2 separate regions of the Homo sapiens genome follow, and region 1 is linked to region 2. The links come from fine-mapping of genetic effects on gene expression. Tissue or cell type: iPS cells. Region 2 holds a variant in brackets; the other region holds the start of a gene. All regions are shown on one strand. Distances are between the middles of the regions.

Region 1 (10,439 bases), 37 kb after region 2:
GTTTCATACTCAAGTTTGATTTAGTTTAACCTAATGTTCTTTTTCTGTCCTGGGATCCCATCCAGGATATCACATTACATTTAGTCATCACCAGGCTCTTCTAGACTGTGACAGTTTCTTATACTTTCCTTGTTTTTGGTGGCCTTGATAGTTCTGAAGAGTACTGGTTATTTTGTACTTAATTTGAGATTGTCTGATATTTCTTCATGATTAGGCTGGGGCAATGAGTTTCGGGGAGGAAACAGATCAAAGATCAAATGCTATTCTCATCATATCATATCAAGGTTACATGCCACTAATGACATACTAGAGATGTTAGCCTTGATCAGCTGGTTGAGGTAGTGTTCTTCCTCCTTTCCATACTGCGCTCTTTGAAAAACATTTACTAGGCTTGACTCATGCTTATGGGGTGGAGAATTATGTTCCATCTTCTCGAGGGTAGAGTACATAAATTTTTTGGAATTTTTCAATATGAGAATTATCTCCCAATTATTTGTTTCTTCAATCATTTACTTGTATCAGTATGAACTCATGGATCTTATTTTATAATTTGGGTTAAATCCAATGCTGAATTACTTATTTTTTGAATTATTCTAGCTTTAGCTATTGGGAGCTCTTTTAGTTGGCTCCTATGTCACTTTGATATACCATCAGTTTTTTGTGTCTTTTTAAAGCACTTGTTTATTTTCTGGCACTATAAGATGTTTCAGACTCATCTTGTATATCCCCTGCCCCAGTCCTAGAATTAGGCATTTTTCTCAAGGGCTCTGGTTCCCTTTGTTGGAGAACAGTATTAGAAACAAAAAACTGGATGCTGGGTGTGCTCCTTGCTTCTGCTTGTCATTGCTTCTAGGCCTTCGGAGGACAGAACTTGGAAATATATGTGTGTATACTAATGTATTAAACATGAATCCACATGCATTTTTAAGTATTTCTATATTTACCCATCTGTATCTATATTAAGCTAAACATTTCATATTGATGCCTCCTACCGTAACCCAGGATTTAATGATCACATGCCTACTCCTCTCATTTTACAGATGAGAAAATTTATGGCTAAAAAGATAAAAGTACTTGCCCTACATCAAATAATTTTAGAGTTGGCAGCCTATTTGTACCAAATTAATACTCACATGGTGATGATATATACATAGTAGATTCATAGTTAATGAAGATGTTGAGATACTAATTATTCCAGTAATGTATATCTATAATTTTAGAGGAAATTTGCAGTGAATATTTAGTCACAGTATCACTATACACCATATCTATTTAGAGTTGTAGTAGTTTCCTTAGAGATTTCCAGAGCATGTGCTCCTCTAGAGCAGGGGTGGCTCAGCAAAAGCTCAACAAGTATTGGGGCCCTCAATCAAGGTTTGTTGAAATAAATGGACTATACTTATCAAGAAATACTGGCTAAATATTTAACCTGCACCTCATTTATAAAATGGAATATCATGGATCATCTGTTCTGCTTACCCTCATAGGGTGGTTCTGAGGATCACATGATAGAATTTACATGCAAATCCTTTGGAATCTGAAAGGAAAAATTATGATACTATTTGGGGAAAATTCTGTACCTTTGAATTGGGTCTATCTTCCTTTAGGTGAGCAGAATCACTATTATTTCTCTGCCTGTATAAAAACTATAAAAAGATTAAAATCAATGGTATTTGTTTAAAAATAATTAGTTTACCCAATGGTTGAGTAGTCTCTTGTGTATAAACTCATATATTTTGCTAATGCTGATTTTATTAATAGTTTTTAATTTAGGCATAATTTTCATACAATAAAAATTTACTTTTTATTGTACAGTTTGGTAAGTATCAATAACTCCACTGCAGTCAAGATACAGACCTGTTCCATACCTCCCCTTCAAAATTTCTTCATGCCCTTTTGTAGTCAATCACTCCCCACCCCCCACCCCCAAGTCCTGGCAAACACTGATCTGTTTTCTGACCGTATAGTCTTCCTTTTTCCAGAATGTCACATAAGTGGAGCCTGGCTTCTTTTACTTCCCATAATGCATTTGAGATTCATCAATATTATTGTATGTATCGAGTTATTCTTTTATTACTGAGTAGTATTCCATTTATAGCTATGCTACATTTTAATTATTGATTCACCAGATGTATTAGCCTATTTTCACACTGCTATAAAGACATACCTGAGACTAGGTAATTTATAAAGAAAAGAGGTTTAATTTACTTATAGTTCTGCATGGCTGGGGAGGACTTCAGAAACTTACAGTTATGGTAGAAGGGAAGCAAGCTCATCTTATGTGGCACAGGGGAGAGACAGTGAGTGTGTGTGAATGAAGGAAGAACTGCCAAACACTTTTAAAACCATCATCTCTGGTGAGAATTCATGCACCATCACAAGAACAGCATGGGGGAAACCGCCCCCATCATCCAATCACTTCCCTCCCTTGACACGTGAAGGTTATAGGTCCTTCCTTCAACACGTGGGTATTACAATTTGAGATGAGATTTGGGTGGGGACACAGAACCAAACCATATCACCAGGTGAAGGACATTATGTTTTTTCCATTTTAGGGTTTGTGTTTTTTCTATTATATGAATAAAGACATATATGTGTTTACAGGTTTTGTGTGAACTTGTTTTTATGTCACTCGGATAAATACCCAGGAGTGGGAATTAGTATGCTGCATGATTAAGTAAATGTTTAACTTTATAAAAAAGATCAGATTGTTTTTTGAAACAGTAACCATCAAGATCAGATGTTATACCTATCCTTGGTCATAAATGGAGGATGAAACTTGGTGAGTGGAGATGGGAATATAAACCTCCAGATGCCCAATTTAACCTGTCATCCAGTTCTGTAAAATCAATCCTTCATTCTCACATCCTCACTTCTCAGAGGAAGCGAGGTCTCTTTAGCAGTGTGTGTAAAGGCTTGCATGTGAGGCTGCCCATGTTATTTTTCTGTTTATTAGGCAGAATGATTGATCTGAGGAGACCAGTGGCAATGACATCCTAGACACAGTAACATCAGGACAACCCATTACTTTTCCTATTACCTCCTTCTTTTCCTTTCCTCTAGAAAGAAAGAAGAGCATTGGGGTGACAGCAATAAATCTAAAGGGAACAATTATACTGATACTGGTTAAGAGGATCTTGTATCTTTACTTATTCCCGAATCTAAGAAAAAAAAAAGGAATTTGGGACTAAGGAGAATTCATTCTTCCTACAGTGTCACATTACATTTGTTCTGTGTCTAAAACCTGCAATATTCAAAACTGACTTTTATTATTAACTGTTGAGTGACTTACAAATGTTGTTAGAGCAGAGCAGGGCAGAACAGTGTCATGGATAATCTTCCAAAGCAGATAATTCAAAAGTCATTTCCATTTAGCTGTGCAAAAACAGTTTATTTCTCTCCGTCAGTTTTCCATTGGTTAACGTACTTTGTTTCTGCTAGGCTGATTTGACTACTGCAAGGAAATACATACCAAGGACATATTATTTGGCATGGTGAAACCACCTTGGGGTCAGAAAACTGAATACTACACAAGTCAAGGTTTAATGTATTATGTATCTTCAAGGGCCTTGCTTCAGTGTCCTATGGTAAGGAATTGAGGGGTGGAGGGAGAAAAGTAGGGATAACCAAAAAGCATGTACTCAGACATAAAGATTTTGGAGGGGTGAGCAAGAAGTTGCAGTAAAATCGTACCTTTTTTTTTTCTTCCTGTAAACTGTCTTTGGTTTATGAGCCAAAGAATGAGTTTATAAGAGGCAGAGCAAAGAATAGGGGAGTAGTGAATTTGTTGTACTTAAGTGGGATGTCAACTTCATAATATAAAAATGAACGTTTCAGCAAATAGAGCTGCTCACTCAGAAAGGGTGGCCTATGTAACTTGGGGTTCCCCATCATTGGCCGTGTTTAAGCCTAAGTGGCATATCTGGTTAGAAATGGATTACAGTAAACAGTATTCCTGTATCCTTCATTCCGCAAATGCAAAAGCCTACTCTGTATAAGGTACATGCAGAATATGAAAAGGTATCAAATCTGGATCTGCTCTCTGCCAGCTGTCAAAGCATTGCTTCTCACACACTTTAATGTGATCTTGTTAAAATGCAGATTCAGAACCCTGGGGATGGGGCCTGATTCTGCATTTCTAACAGGCTCCCAGTTGACGCCAACACTGCTGGTCTGTGTAACACAGAGTGATAAACGTTTCTAGAAGGAGACATGCAAATACTTATAATACAAAGGTAAGTACCTTAGGGATTCCACTAATTTTCATAAAAAACCTGGATCCCTCCCAACCCTAGGGCTGTCTTTGCCCTTTTTATACCTTTAGTGTTCCTTCTGATGTTTTCGTTGTTGCTATCTTCCTTGAATTTTATTTCTTCTGAGGTTTCTCACTGTGTATGCTGTTTCTTAGCCTAGGAGAGCCTTTTCGTTCTTCTCCTAAGACTAACATTTTACTAATTTGTCAAGGAGCTAGAGCTCCTAAACACGCCATCTTGAATTCTTCCCTGCGACCCCAGTCGGGCTGAAAGCTCCTTCCTTGTCGCTCCCCACTGAACAGATTTTTCTTGGGGCGGGGAGAGGGGGACGGAGTATCGCTGAGTCGCCAGGCTGGAGTGCAATGGCGCGATCTCGGCTCACCGCAACCTCCGCCTCCCGGGTTCAAGCGATTCTTCTGCCTCATCCTCCCAAGTAGCTGGGACTTCCGGCGCGCGCCACCACGCCCAGCTAATTTTTGTATTTTTAGTAGAGCCGGGGTTTCACCTTGTTGGCCAGGATGGTCTTGATCTCCTGACTTCGTGATCTGCTCGCCTCAGCCTCCCAAAGTGCTGGGAATACAGGCGTGAGCCACTGCGCCCGGTCAGAACAGTTTTAACCTCCAGCAATGACCACTGCTTCCTTCTGCCTGCAGTTGGAAGTCAGTTTCAGTTTTCTTATTCCCTATAAGGAACCCACCTCTCCGGTCGCCTAACACACAGATGCTGCCCAGAAAACGTGCTGGCGCACCTGAGGCGGGGTAGAAAGCCGTGCCGCTCCTCCCGGCACCGAGCACCGGAGCCCAGGGAGGCGGCCTCCGAGTGTCATTTGGGGACGTCCCTTCTGCCGGGTAGTCTCAGAGGCCAAGCGCTCCTATTATCCCGGGCGCAGTCTCCCCAGGCGGGACAGGCCCTGCCTGGCGCCCCCTCCTGGCGCTGGAGGCTGCGTGCGACTGCCCACCATCGAGGCGGCGGCGGCGGCGGCTAGAGAGGCCGGCGGGTCCCGGGCGCCGAGGCTGCAGGCCGCAGGGAACGCGCACTGGGCGGACTCCGCGCCGCCGGCCTTGTAGCCATTTTAGGAGGAATCGCTGGTCGCCAGCGAGGGGTGCGGCTTCAATTTCAATAACTTTATTGGTGGCCTGATCTGCAGAACAGCCATCACATCAGTGGCCCTTGGAGGAGGGAGCGCATCGCCCGAGGTGACTGGAGTGGGGGCGCCCCTGGCAGTGAGCGCGGGGACGCGGGGGAGGTCCCGATAGCGGGTTTCCTGAGCTAGGGCCAGTGAGGGCACCGGGGTATTTGCAGGCGTTCCCGCAGGCCAGGAGGGAGAGGGCTCCAGGGCTCGGCTTCCCTGGGGCGGGGAATCCCTTGCCCTGTCCCGAGGCGCAGGGGCGGGGCCGGGGGGCGCCCCTGACGCGGCGGCTGAGGTGTTCCCAGCCCGGTGTCGTTCCCCGCGGTAGGTGGTCCCCGACGAGCTGCAGCCATGGGAAACACCACCAGCGACCGGGTGTCCGGGGAGCGCCACGGCGCCAAGGCTGCACGCTCCGAGGGCGCAGGCGGCCATGCCCCGGGGAAGGAGCACAAGATCATGGTGGGGAGTACGGACGACCCCAGCGTGTTCAGCCTCCCTGACTCCAAGGTAAGCGTCCCATGCCCGCAGTTGGTGTCAGTACTGCAGCGGGTTGATTTCTGGGCTCCTCTTCCCTTTCTTGGTTCTTTTCTACCGCGCCGAACCGGGCTATGGTTTTTTGAATTAAAGGGATTTATCGGGGACAGAGGTGTTGGATGATAATTCCTCTTGAAGTGCCGCCTCAAAATAGGATAAAGAGGCGGAGTTCTTGCTTTCCTGGTGTTCTGACTAATCTGTTGGCCACATTTTTAGGATGGGGACAATAGACATCCCCCCATCCCCGATCCTCCGAGCACGAATGGCTCTCTTCCATAGCGTTGCTGAATTTGTAGTTTGTAATCCCTGGTGGACAACTTCAGAGGGTAGGTTGCACGAGTTGCTGACCATAGGTGGTAGTTTCTCACCTTTGCCCTGAGGTGGCTAAATGAAATTCTTTTTCTGAAAATTTCTATGTATCAGTATCATTTTTGCTCTTCTAGCAGCTCTACAGTTGTGATCCTCTTCCCTTTTGGCACGGCTGTAAGCAGCAACTACTTGCTTATTGAATACTTTCTCCTAGTCTTGGGGATCAATTAAGGACATCATTTAGTTGACTGCTTAATTTTTGTCCCATACTTTATAGTTGTGGTGGCTGAGGCTGTGCCTCTTTCACGCCCCGCTGCTGCTCCGTAGGTGGAAGAGCCAATGATTCCACGACTTGTTTACTCCTCAGTAGTACTTCAAAATGTTGCGTGGCTAAAAAAACGACAACCCACAGCTGCCCTGAAGACCTTGCTCTCAATTCCAAGGACTTTCAGGAAGAGAACAACTTGTTTTCACTCTGTAAGAAAGGACAGATGGAGCTGATAGCAGCGATTACCATTCTAATGTTTCTAATGGCTTTCAGAGCTGTCAGCATGAAATACAAGTAATTCCTCCAGGTAGACTGACTGGATGAGATAGAAAAATGGAGGGCTTGAGGAGATTCGGGTGTGTTTGATGTTTCCTATCATTTCATCACTTCCCAGGGAACTGGGGCTTTAGAGAGTGAATAGAGTATTGTTTGCCATATTGGTAGCACATGGAATTTGGATTCCATGATTTATTTCTTTGGATCTCAATTGATAACATCATCACAGCCTGGCGCAGAGGCTCACGCCTGTAATCCCAGCACTTTGGGAGGCCGAGGCGGTTGGATCATTTGAGGTCAGGTGTTCGAGACCAGCCTGACCAACATGGTGAAACCCCGTCTCTACTAAAAATACAGAAAAAGTAGCCGGGCATGCTGGTGCATGCCTGTAGTCCCAGCTACTCGGGAGGCTGAGGCAGGAGAATCGCTTGAACCCGGGAGGCGGTGGTTGCAGTGAGTTTAGATCAAACCACTGCACTCCAGCCTGGGTGACAGACTCTCAAAACAAAAAAACAAAAAAACAAAAAAACCAACCATAATCACAGAGAAGTGAGAGTGATTAAAAGGAGCACTTATTGGGGTTTATTCTCCAATTCTCCATTCTTATTTGGGCTATCTACAAGCCATCTGAATTTACTTCTTCAAAGCTTTCGAAAGGTGATCCGCCTCATTATATTTTTACCCTTTTCCTATGTTGATGACTCAGGATTTAAATACAGTGTATTTGTCGAACTGTGACTGCAGTAATTGGTGTCCTGATTAAAAGCCAGGTTGCTCTGTCTGAATTGGGGCCTATTTTGTATTATTCTTATCTCTCACCTCAGTCTTGGCATTTGTGAATTAAGAAAATTATTCATATAATTTTCAGATTGTCTGAAAATCAGATAATTCCTAAGGTCTCATTTAAGTCTAAAATTTTATAGTTCTCAATGTAGCCTCTTTACTTCTAAACTCAACATTTTACTTAAACATCAAACTGTAGTTCTGATTGTCGTTTTGCCTCTTTTCCTGGTAGTTTTGCTGAGTAACTTGGAGTAAACAATCTTTCTGCTAGTCAGTTGCATTCATTCCTACTACAGAAATGTCATGTCATAAGTGGAAGGGCTTTCCTCCAAAGCTAGGCATATTAATAGTTTGTAGCTTTCAAATTCTAAACTGAAAATCCTGTCATAAAAGTAACTGACAGAAACAGTGGCAGGGGGGCCTACTTTGCTTTGAATGCCTGCCTTTTTCAGTGGACTAGTTCAGTGGTTCTCAATCCTGTTTGCACATTAGAATCACCTCAGATTTCTTTAAATAGTTTTTGGAAAATTTGAAACACTTTCAAAGTAGGGGGAAACAGTATAATGACATCTATATACATGCCACCCAGTTTGAACAATGATCATATCTTGAATGAACATATAACATCTATACCCCAGTCCACTATTCTCCCACTAGTTATTTTGAAGCAAATTCCCAGATATTATATCAAGTATTATTTTATCTGTAACATTTTAGGATGTACCTCTAAAGATGAGGGTTTTTTCTTTGTTATTTTAACATAATCACGGTATATCTGGGAAGCTTTTTTTCCTTTATTTTAACATAATCACAGTGTTATCTAGAAAGCTTTTTAAAAATAGGTTCCCAGATCTTACATCCGAATCTGAGGGTTATTCTTAGGCATATGTCAAATTCTTGTAATTCTAACGCAGCCAGTTAGTCAAGAGTGCATTGTTCTGAGAATATGTAGTTTTCTCTTAAGTCAATTCCTTATGTGAAAGTCCTTTCAATTCTCTTTCTCTATTTACTTTGGATTATCCTGCTACTGATATGCTATACTGTAGTTTTGAGGAATATCAAGAGAATGTATGGAGGGAAGCTATGTCAACCATTTTGAAAAGAAAGCCCAAATGAATAAGCTAGTCCTTTTTTTAAAAAAAAACCCACATTATTCAATTTAGTAATATTTAGGCTTAATACTATACAGTCTTATTTACCAAAGTCACTTAAACCAGTCTAAAATAGGGGTCAGCAATCTTTCTGTAAAGGGCCAGATAGTAAATAGTTTAGACTTTGTAGACCATACAGTCTCTGTTATAGCTACGCAATTCTGCCACTGTAGCCTGTAAGCAGCTATAGACAATATAGGTAAGCAAGGCAGGTATGTTGGTTCACACCTCTAGTCTCAGCTTCTCTGGAAGCTGAGGTGGGAAGATGGCTTGAGCCCAGGAGTTCGAGGCTGCAGTGAGCTATGATTACACCACTCACTGCATTCCAGCCTGGGTGACAGAGCAAGGTCCTTTCTCAATCAATCAATCAGTAAAATAATAGGTAAACAAATGGGCAGAGCTGTTTTCAAATAACACTTGATAAAAGCATCTGGCTTACTGGCTGTCTGCCAACTCTTGGTCCAAAGGATAGTAATGAAAAGAAACAGGAGTTACTGTTTTTACAATCCCATAAACCTCATTTGATAAGAGAGCTACTTTTGATAAAGGAAATTGTATTTTTGATCTCTTGCTTCTTGAGGTTCTAGAATTTTTATTCCTACTCCTGAAATAATTAGTATAAGCCTGGGATAGGGGAATAAGTAAGATTTCATAGCCACTTCTCAAGTTTTAAGAAATCAGTGATCTAGTTTTTGAATTTTTAATGTTTCTTCTTTTTACTTCTTAGCTGAAATACAGTTTATGAATTACTTATGAATTTTGATATCTCTGACTTCCATTACAACTGGTAATTGAGAGCTATTCATATTTGCCTATAAAAATATATGGCTGACTTAATTATCTTTTACAGAACCATACTTTGTTTTCATTTTTTTTTCCTCTGAAGAAAGACTCAGAAGCATATCATAATTGCCTGCCTATGAGTTAAACTAGTGGTAGGGAGTTATTTTTTTCTTTTTTTTTTAAGGGAGAGTCTAAGGCTCTGGAAGGGTAAGTGACACAGGTAGACTCAAAAGTTAGGCTATGATTTAGGCAGTGCTTGAGCATAGGCCATTTGACCATTTTTGGTCCTAGATGAGTTCTTTTTCTATAATTTGTTCAAACTCTGATTTAGTTGCTAATTTTGGGGTTTATATCCTTAGCCAAAGCCTAGCACCCTTCTCTATCCTAGGGAGGAGAGTGACCTTTTTAGAATTCTTGGGTCACAGTTTATTCTAGGGATGACCTACTCCTTCTTACAGCTCCCTGGGGACAAAGAGTTTGTATCATGGCAGCAGGATTTGGAGGACTCCGTAAAGCCCACACAGCAGGCCCGGCCCACTGTTATCCGCTGGTCTGAAGGAGGCAAGGAGGTCTTCATCTCTGGGTCCTTCAACAATTGGAGCACCAAGATTCCACTGATTAAGAGGTGACAAGTGTCTTGGTTGAATCTAAGGGTCCAGGAATAGAGACCTGATTTCTTTTCTCAGAAGAGAGACCCAGCTGGACTTTTCTCCACCTACTAAGGACTGTCTCTAGAACATGCCCTTTTCTGCGGCCACTTAGTATATCTGTGGGATTTTTTTTTAACCTCATAGTGAGTCAGAGATGTTTTACCCTTTAGAATTTCATTGCCTCAGAGGGATTCATAATAGCTTTATGGCTACATTCTTTAGGACTATGTCATACAAGTCCTGTCTATGCTTGTGGGAAGTCTTTTGTAACTGTCTGAGTCTTGTTGCTCTGACTTCTGCACT
Region 2 (10,439 bases):
CCCAGGCTGGAGTACAGTGACACGATCTCGGCTCACTGCAACCTCCACCTCCCAAGTTCAAGCAATTCTCCCGCCTCAGCCTCCCGAGTAGCTGGGATTACAAGCATGTGCCACCACACCCACTAATTTTTGTATTTGTAGTAGAGACGGGGTTTCGCCATGTTGGCCAGGTGAGTTTTGAACTCCTGACCTCGGGTGATTCACCTGGCTCAGCCTCCCAAAGTGCTGGGATTACATGCGTGAGCCACCGCACCCGGCCGGGATGGTGTCTCTATTAGTCCATGAAGACATTATGGTCATGGGCCCGTAGAAGCACATAGTGTTTCCTTAACCTAAGTAGGGTAACCCATATTTATTATTTTTTATAAAGCTAAAAATCATAACACTATCCTGTTTCACAGCCTCTTTCTTTATAGTTCTTTGTAAAATGGGTATTTATGGGAGCCAAAGGGAGATTCATTTATATAAAATGAGAGCCACTGAGGTGTTTTTCTACCCTACCAGGAAAAGGAGCCCTATAGCTCAGTCACTTATTTAAAGGTAGCCAGGAGAAGAGAACCTAGGGTAAGAAGACATCAGAAGGTCTCAGGACATATAGGGGTCAGGAGAAGAATAGGCATTTAGTGCATGGAGTGTCATAAAAGCACAGGAGAAGCCCAGGCTTTACTCAGGTGTTACAGTGCCTTAGGACCTGGACCAAGAGACCTGGTGACTTGCACTTTTCTAGAAGAGGAGGGTACATTAGCCTGCCAACACTATGTTATTTTTTTCTGTCTTGTGGAAATTTTCTCATTCTGACTACAGCCCCAAACAGTTCTTATTTGTGGAGTATGAAAATCAAATATCCCTGCATGGGTCCTATTATGTGATAGTGTCTGTGATATCAGCCCTTTGTGTAACACTATGCAAGGAGAGTCATGTCAGGGATGTCCCCTGTGGTTATCACTTTTCTTTTCAGACCACTGTGTGCAGTGTGAAGAAGCAGCCTGATTTTGCCACTTCAGGCCAATGGGAAGTGGTCACTGAATCTGAAGGGAAAAAGGAGATGAATGTCTTTGATGGAGTCATGGTTTGCACTGGCCATCACACCAATGCTCATCTACCTCTGGAAAGCTTCCCTGGTGAGCAGCTTACCAGGAAGGAAGACCCTTGACCCATGCCTGTGACCTGACCCCTGAGGAATGGGAGGATTGTGGTCTGAGTAATTCCTACTTTGGAATGAAGTAAGACTTATCCTAATTATTCTTGTTCCCCAGAAGGATGTTGGGGTAACTTGTATTACTGCCATTTTTGTAATTTTGGAGATTAGAGCAAAATTTGCAGTCTATTTAGTTTTACAATGACTTTAGTCATTGTATCAAATGACTGGAGTATCAAAGGGAAGAATGTGGAGTTCTTGAGGAGCATTAGGTAGAATAAGGAATTTTTCAGCAGTAAACACAAATATTGAGTTTCTAAGGAAGGAATGAAAGCTTGAAGAATTTCAGTCTTTGGCCTGGATTTTCATTTTAAAAAAAAAAGCACTCTATACTCTAAAGTATATAAGAATATATGTGCTGTAAGTGAAATGCGAGTAGGTATTTAAGGGGATGAAAAGATAAAAGAGAATGGAGGTTTTCTGAGGCAGTTTATATTTATATCTCTAAATCCAAAATACAAACACATCCTGAGTTAAGCAAAGTACATATGACAAGGAAATCACAAGGTACTACTCTGAGGCTATGGGAAAAGAAAATAGGCAAAAATACTGAGAAAGGCAAGAAAGTAGCTGAGTAAAGAGAACACTTGGAGAATATATGCTTAAACTTAAGTCTGCAAAAAAAACAAATGACTTGACAAATGATATCTATCATGTAAACCATTACCCAATAATTATTTTCCCTTCTCTTGCAGGAATTGAGAAGTTCAAAGGGCAGTACTTCCACAGTCGAGACTATAAGAACCCAGAGGGATTCACTGGAAAGAGAGTCATTATAATTGGCATTGGGAATTCTGGAGGGGATCTGGCTGTAGAGATTAGCCAAACAGCCAAGCAGGTTTGAATCACTCAATTATTATTTACGTTGCTTAACTCTAGCTTCAGTTTCTCCAAGGAAGCTGCAGGTGGACCCAACAGAGAATAGGGATACCTGCACATAGCCCTTCAGTGCCAGTGGCAAATATAGGGCTTCGTTTCATTACCTCAGTTGGCAACATGGTGATTGGTGCTAATAGAGGAGTTAAGGCTACCAGTTAGAGTTCCATTGTGCAACTAGCCTCACACCAAGGAACTGGATCAGCTAAAGTCTGGGCTCATTATCCTAATCAGGCATCTTCTCAGAGTGTGCCTCTGGCTTTGATAAAGACAAAGTAATTGCTGGGAGAGGTTGTTAGAAAGCAGTATTGAGAGCGAGGATCTTCAATTGGCCAGCAGAAGTGCTATGTTCTTACATAAAGGAAAGCACGCGTGATCATTGGAAACTTTTCACTCATAGGATGGTGCTTGAATTTTCCTTTACACTCCCCAAATGGAAAAAAGTATCAATTTTATCTTCCCAAAGACAATGTGGGTATCCGTATAGCGTCCAAACTGTAGCACATGCAAGCAGCTTGCCCTGGCCTTTGCATACAGTTAGGTAACTCAGATAACATTCATTCTAAAGCAATTATATCTCCTTGGCTTTTTGTTTTGTTTGTTTTGGTTTTTGTATAGCAGACTTTGAACTGAGAAGCAAGTGTCTTCACTATAAATTCCTGGAAAAAGACATGCCAATATTGTATTTTGTTATTAATGTCTGTGTTGAATCAAACTCTATTGGCAATAGGTAAATGTCTTGGTTGTTCTTTAGTAACTTTAATTAAGCCATGCTTCTCTATAAAGATGTTTTAAATTGTTTTATTTTAATTAGAAGCTTAGTGCTACAATTCTGTTAAATGACTCTTACTCAGCAACTTTGTTTGAAAAACACTTCTTCTCATTGCTATCCTCATCTATAACCACAAAAATTATTTCATATGATACTTCATAAATTAATTCAACAGACATTTATCAGGAAATAATCATATAAACAAGGATTAAAAATAATTAAAATAATTATATAAACAAGGGTTAAAACGTATGTGGGTGTTATGGTAGAGGAATGTGCAAAATGTGGAGTGGGGACCCATGGCGAGAGCCATCTTTAATATCATTGGCTTGTCAAATGGGCAGTTCTAAGGGAGCTTGGCCTTACCTGCTCTGGGGAATTGCAGGTTGCCACATAACAAAGCATTTCTGTGTGGGTACAGATAAGGTGGCTGTGTCTGTGAGAAAGCCTGGGAAAATGCAAAGGAAAACTATGTCTGCATAGCAGAGGCAATACTGTCACACCACTAATCCAAGCTGAAGAAACTCAATTGCTGAGTTCTAACTTTTTACTTTACTTGTAAATTGTATTCATGATGATTTGTTTATAAATCAAAAACTTTAAATGGACCTATATATTTCAGTATATCATGGAAGTTTTTCGTATAATTCTTGTAGATGCTTTTGTAAAGAGAAAACATTCCTTTTTTTCAATATTAATTTCATATAAGATTACACTGATTAAACAATTTTCCTTATAAATCTGATTTGTAAATGTTATTTGCTTAAAACAAGGTATAGATGGAAAACTGAAATAAGAAATATGACAGCCATTAAGCACTTATCAAGTGTTTACTATATACCACACCTTTTACAAAAACACTGCTTAATTATCACAACAGCCTTGTGATATATGTATTATTATTATTACTATTTCATAAATAGGAAATCTTTTCATTAGGGCTCTGAGCGTTTTCATTACTCAGCAGAAGTTATATAGCCAGCACACAAAATTGTTCAGTTTCTAAGACCATATATGCTCTTTCAACTGTGACTGTGGAAGTACATAATTATCAGAGTGCTTACAGTCACTTTAGGCGAGATAAGATTTGTGAAGTAAACAATTATCCCTCTGTAGACAGGTCATTTTAGACAAAAAGACTATGAAGCAATGTGCGTATATAACTTAAAATCTGGAAGCCATCTCCAGAGAGTTTCATAGTGTAGGAAAAGTGATTCTTTTGCCAGGTAACTGCATATCAAATCTTTATCAGTTCTGAACATGAACTTTAGCCAGAGGAGGACACAGAAAGACTGACTAGCTTCCTGTTGTTCCACTAGCAATCTTATTTTTCTCCATTAAATAATCAATCAAACATTTCTTAAGCACAGGCTTTGGAGTTAGTCAGACCTGGGTTGGAAATTCACCTCTGCCACTTACTAGCTCTGTGATCTCAGGCAAGTTATTCATCCTTTCCATGCCCCTCATCTATAACATGGGTGTAATAATACTTTCCTCAAGAGGTTGTTGTAATATAGATGAAGGACCTAGCACAATGACTTAAAGGTCACAAATCCCAATAAATGGAAGTGATGATAATCTGCTGTGGATGTGTAGGCTTTATCTCCTATCCTTGAGAAAACACATTTGAAGAGACAGAAATTAGGAGTGTAGAAAGTTTAATATCAATAAAAATGATAAATAGCAGGGGTTTTTGTAATAATGCCAACAATGTCAATGGCAAAAGAATGAGGGTTTTAGATTAAATGGTCTCCAGCTGCTTTCAACTTTACCAGTACATGATTTTTAATGAGTTCTACAGGTGATAAGTGCTAGAGAAATTCAGAGGATGGAGAGAAAATTGTCAGCCTGAATAGTCAGCGGTTTCTTCATGGAGGAGGCAGTCTTGATCTGGGTCTTAAAAATGAACAGGCTTCGCAGAGTTAAGAGGAAAGAAGGCATTTCAGGCAGGCATAATAGCACTAAACAGAAATACAACGGTGTATTAGAGCAAAACATATTCTTGGACAGTAGATACACCAATTTAATTCTAAGTTTAGTGTTTGGGAAGGAAAATGGCAGGAAACAAACATAAAAACCCACAAAGATTGTGCAGGGGCTAAAAAGCCAGACTAATGAGTTTGAACTCTTTTTTTTTTTTTTTTTGAGACGGAGTCTCACTCTGTTGCCCAGGCTGGAGTGCAGTGG[T/C]GCGATCTTGGCTCACTGCAAGCTCCGCCTCCCAGGTTGACGCCATTCTCCTGCCTCAGCCTCCCGAGTAGCTGGGACTACAGGCACCTGCAACCACGCCTGGCTAATTTTTTGTATTTTTAGTAGAGACGGGGTTTTTCAGTAGAGACGGGGTTTCACTGTGTTAGCCAGGATGGTCTCGATCTCCTGACCTCGTGATCCGCCCGCCTTGGCCTCCCAAAGTGCTGGGATTACAGGCGTGAGCCACCGCGCCGGGCCTGAAATGATTCTTGAAGAAAATGGGGGTGCTTTTGAAGGTTTACGAATCTGAGTGACAAAAGCAAACAATTTCTTCCATGCCCCAGGTTTTCCTCAGCACCAGGAGAGGGGCTTGGATCCTGAATCGTGTAGGGGACTACGGATATCCTGCTGATGTGTTGTTCTCTTCTCGACTTACACATTTTATATGGAAGATCTGTGGCCAATCATTAGCAAACAAATATTTGGAAAAAAAGATAAACCAAAGGTTTGACCATGAAATGTTTGGCCTGAAGCCTAAACACAGGTATGTTCCCAGGATGGGAGTGCAGGGATAGTGGCCAAAGCACAAGAATAAGGACTCTTCACACTGGCTAATAGTAAAGCCACCTCTACCCATACATTAAGAAAACCCACAGTGGCTGGGCATGGTGGCTCACGCCTGTAATCCCAGCACTCTGGGAGGCGGAGGCGGGTGGATCACCTGAGCTCAGGAGTTTGAGACCATCCTGGCCAACACGGTGAAACCCCATCTCTACTAAAAACACAAAATTAGCCAGGTGTGGTGGCACCTGTCTGTAGTCCCAGCTATTCAGGAGGCTGAGGCAGGAGAATCACCTGAGCCCTGGAGGCAGAGGTTGCAGTGAGCTGAGATTGCACCACTGCACTCCAGCCTGGGCAACAGACTCTGTCTCAAAAAGAAAAAAAAAAAAAGAAAAGAAAAGAAAAGAAAGCCTATAGACTCATAGAATCTGAAATCAGATTTCTAACTTGTACCCACAGATGTCCAAGATCTATTGGTCTGTGGGTTTTTAATCTAGAATTCTCTTTGGCAGTAACCCTTTTCTCATTCCCCCAGGTATCAGTTCTTTTTGCATGATACCCAACAACAAAATGATAGCTGAGGACAGTGCGTCATTTACTCATTGAGTACCTGTTATGAGCCAGGCATCATACATGGGCATGAAATACAGAGAGAAGACATAATAGTAATAGTAATAGAAATAACACTCACCTTTCTGAGGACTTTCTATAAGATAAGCACAGTGCTAAATGAGTTACATGCAGTATCTCACTTAATCCTGACAATAGCCCTATAAGTTGGTACTATTTTTGTTTCACAGTGAGGAGGTCTATGCAAACCTACCCCAAAGGCTGAGGAAGCTGAGAGGCTGAAGAAAGAAGCTGACAGATTCAGTTTCTTAGAAACATTTCATAGGGACTTATGAACAGAAGCCATGTCTGTCTCAGGCAGTGGTGAGACAAGATGGTAGATCCCCATACCATTACCTCCTGACCCAGGGATGATATACCACAGGGGAGGGGCACACATACTTCAGAGCGAATGGGTAGGAGTTTGCCCTAAGGGTGGGATTTACAGTAAGTACATACTATTAAACAACAGATTAACTGGAAATCTCAGAGGTATTCCCGGAACCAGGGTTGATCAGAAGTCAATATGGTAGATTAACTTCTAAGATGGAGTTGCTTTGGCCTCCACAATTTTTGATCTACATTTTACAAATATAAAAACTGAGATGTAGAGAAACTAAGTAATTTTCCCGAGGGCAACAGAAATAATAAATGGCAGACTCAAAAAATAGATCTTACCTTAAATACTCTAATGAGAAGAAAGAGGACAGATTATAATGAAGAAATACATACAGTGTTATGAAAGTACAAAGGATGGGGTCCTCAGAGAACCAGGGAGGGAAAACATTTCTAGAGGCTGATTTTAAATTTATTTTCCCTCCAACTTTTTATTTTTGAAAATGTTCAGATCTACAGAAAAGTTGCAAAATAATAAGTACAATGAGCACCCATATATCCTTCACCTGGATTCACCTGTTAAGTTTGCTATATTTGCTTCCTTTCCCCATCTCTGTAGATAGGTCCATACATATAGAGCATACATACACAAGTACATTTTTTTCTGAAACCATTTGAGTACGTTGCAGTCATTAAGACACTTTAAATACTTCAGTGTATATTGTATAAGAAAAAGGGCATTCTCCTACATAACCATCATATAATTATCACACGTGGGAAATTTAACATTGATAAAATACATTAATACATTGGCAATATCCCCAGTTGCCCTAATAGTATTTTTTATAGCTTTAAAAAAATCTTTTTAAATCTAGTATCCTGTCAGGTAATCAATCACACCATTACATTTAGTTGTCATGTCTCTTTAATCTCTCTTTTTATATATATATATTTTTATTATACTTTAAGTTCTAGGGTACATGTGCACAACGTGCAGGTTTGTTATATATGTATATATGTGCCATGTTGGTGTGCTGCACCCATTAACTTGTCATTTACATCCATTAACTTGTCATTTACATCAGATATATCTCCTAATGCTATGCTTCCCCACTCTTCCCACCCCACAACAGGCCCTGGTGTGTGATGTTCCCCTTCCTGTGTCCAAGTGTTCTCATTGTTCAGTTCCCACCTATGAGTGAGAACATGCAGTGTTTGGTTTTTTGTCCTTGCGATAGTTTGCTGAGAATGATGGTTTCTAGCTTCATCCATGTCTCTACAAAGGACATGAACTCATCATTTTTTATGGCTGCATAGTATTCCATGGTGTATATGTGCCACATTTTCTTAATCCAGTCTATCATTGTTGGACATTTGGGTTGGTTCCAAGTCCTTGCTATTGTGAATAGTGCCGCAATAAACATACGTGTGCATGTGTCTTTATAGCATCATGATTTATAATCCTTTGGGTATATACCCAGTAATGGGATGGTTGGGTCAAATGGTATTTCTAGTTCTTTTTGAGGAATCGCCACACTGTCTTCCACAATGGTTGAACTAGTTTACAGTCCCACCAACAGTGTAAAAGTGTTCCTATTTCTCCACATCCTCTCCAGCACCTGTTGTTTCCTGACTTTTTAATGATCGCCATTCTAACTGGTGTGAGATGGTAACTCATTGTGGTTTTGATTTGCATTTCTCTGATGGCCAGTGATGATGAGCATTTTTTCATGTGTCTGTTGGCTGCATAAATGTCTTCTTTTGAGAAGTGTCTGTTCATATCCTTCACCCACTTTTTGATGGGGTTGTTTGTTTTTTTCTTGTAAATTTGTATGAGTTCTTTGTAGATTCTGGATATTAGCCCTTTGTCAGATGAGTAGATTGCAAAAATTTTCTCCCATTTTATAGGTTGCCTGTTCACTTTGATGGTAGTTTCTTTTGCTGTGCAGAAGCTCTTTAGTTTAATTAGATCCCATTTGTCAATTTTGGCTTTTGTTGCCATGGCTTTTGGTGTTTTAGACATGAAGTCCTTGCCCATGCCTATGTCCTGAATGGTATTGCCTAGGTTTTCTTCTAGGGTTTTTATGGTTTTAGGTCTAACATTTAAGTCTTTAATCCATTTTGAATTAATTTTTGTATAAGGTGTAAGGAAGGGATCAAGTTTCAGCTTTGTACATATGGCTAGCCAGTTTTCCCAGCACCATTTGTTAAATAGGGAATCCTTTCCCCATTTCTTGTTTTTGTCAGGTTTGTCAAAGATCAAATAGTTGTAGATATGTGGTATTATTTCTGAGGGCTCTGTTCTGTTCCATTGGTCTATATAAGAAATAATTCTCTCTTTGACATGGGCTTTCTTTTTAAGAACCCAAGGCATTGTTTTGTAGAGAGTCTCTAAATTTAGACTTGCATAATTTTTTTCCTTTATTATATTCAGGTTAAATGTTTTTGACACATATACTACATAGGACATGTTGATCTTAGTGGGTCACATCAAGAACCACATTATGTCAGTTTATCTCACAGTAATAATGCTAAATTTGACCACTTAGATAAGGTGGTATAGATACCATCAAGTTTCTCCACTATAAAGATATTTTTTCCCGTTGAAGTTAATCAGTGGGGTGACATTTGGAAACTGTGTTTCCTAAAAACCTTTCACCTAATTATTTTAGCATGCATGTTTTTGGTGGTTGCAAAATAAATTGAGGCTTTGTTGAATAATAGGAGATAGCCAAACAAATAGAGCAAGGGTATAGCATTCTAATTATAAAGACAAAGTCTTGGAACAGCAAAAAATACATTATGCTCCAGGACTTGCATGTAGTCTGGTATGGCTGGACTATATAGCAAAGATGGAAGAGTGACTGAATGTATCTCCAGGTTCATCAGGCATGAAAACCTTTGGTTCCTCCGCGGTCTTCTGAGCGGTCACGTGAACGGCTTCCTGCAGGCTGGCCATGGCGCTTCAAGTTCCCAAGGCTCCGGGCTTCGCCCAGATGCTCAAGGAGGGAGCGAAACACTTTTCAGAATTAGAAGAGGCTGTGTATAGAAACATACAAGCTTGCAAGGAGCTTGCCCAAACCACTCGTACAGCATATGGACGAAATGGAATGAAAAAAATGGTTATCAACCACTTGGAGAAGTTGTTTGTGACAAATGATGCAGCGACTATTTTAAGAGAACTAGAAGTACAGCATCCTGCTGCAAAAATGACTGTAATGGCTTCTCATATGCAAGAGCAAGAAGTTGGAGATGGCACAAACATTGTTCTGGTATTTGCCGGAGCTCTCCTGGAATTAGCTGAAGAACTTCTGAGGATTGGCCTGTCAGTTTCAGAGGTCATAGAAGGTTATGAAATAGCTTGCAGAAAAGCTCATGAGATTCTTCCTAATTTGGTACGTTGTTCTGCAAAAAACCTTCGAGATGTTGATGAAGTCTCATCTCTACTTCGTACCTCTGTAATGTGTAAACAATATGGTAATGAAGTATTTCTGGCCAAGCTTATTGTTCAGGCATGCGTATCTATTTTTCCTGATTCTGGCCATTTCAAAGTTGATAACATCAGAGTTTGTAAAATTCTGGGCTGTGGTATCACTTCCTCTTCAGTATTGCATGGCATGGTTTTTAAGAAGGAAACAGAAGGTGATGTACATCTGTCAAAGATGCAAAAATAGCAGTGTACTCTTGTCCTTTTGATGGCATGATAACAGAAACTAAGGGAACAGTGTTGATAAAGACTGATGAAGAATTGATGAATTTAAGTAAGGGAGAAGAAAATCTCATGGATGCATAAGTCAAAGCTATTGCTGATACTGGTGCAAATGTTGTAGTAACAGGTGGCAAAGTGGCAGACATGGCTCTTCATTATGCAAACAAATATAATATGATGTTAGTGAAGCT

Alleles and levels. Alleles are on the strand shown, and positions count from the first base shown. SD is a standard deviation of normalised expression in the study named.
For the expression in iPS cells of the gene that starts at base 5,408 in region 1, C is the high allele of the variant in region 2 and T is the other (moderate effect, 0.55 SD a copy in PhLiPS).

Evidence for each region. PIP is the estimated chance that this variant, and not a neighbour inherited with it, causes the effect.
Region 1: PRKAB2 starts here. The variant in region 2 is fine-mapped to the expression of PRKAB2 in iPS cells (PhLiPS, PIP 0.95).

What each region holds. Positions count from the first base shown.
Region 1 is chr1:147,167,439-147,177,877 of GRCh38, reverse strand. PRKAB2 (protein kinase AMP-activated non-catalytic subunit beta 2) reads left to right here and starts at 5,408. Exons shown (of 8, transcript NM_005399.5): 1 at 5,408-5,449; 2 at 5,711-5,889; 3 at 9,945-10,111. The coding sequence starts at 5,734. It also overlaps a transcript of CHD1L not described here and the pseudogene PDIA3P1. RefSeq lists silencers at 5,079-5,308, 5,479-5,748.
Region 2 is chr1:147,203,990-147,214,428 of GRCh38, reverse strand. It overlaps FMO5 (flavin containing dimethylaniline monoxygenase 5), which reads left to right. Exons shown (of 9, transcript NM_001461.4): 4 at 959-1,121; 5 at 1,894-2,036; 6 at 5,378-5,577. It also overlaps a transcript of CHD1L not described here and the pseudogene CCT8P1. Among named protein-coding and RNA genes, the nearest start is that of FMO5, 16 kb to the left of the region's middle. The variant T/C (reference allele first, on the strand shown) is at 5,034.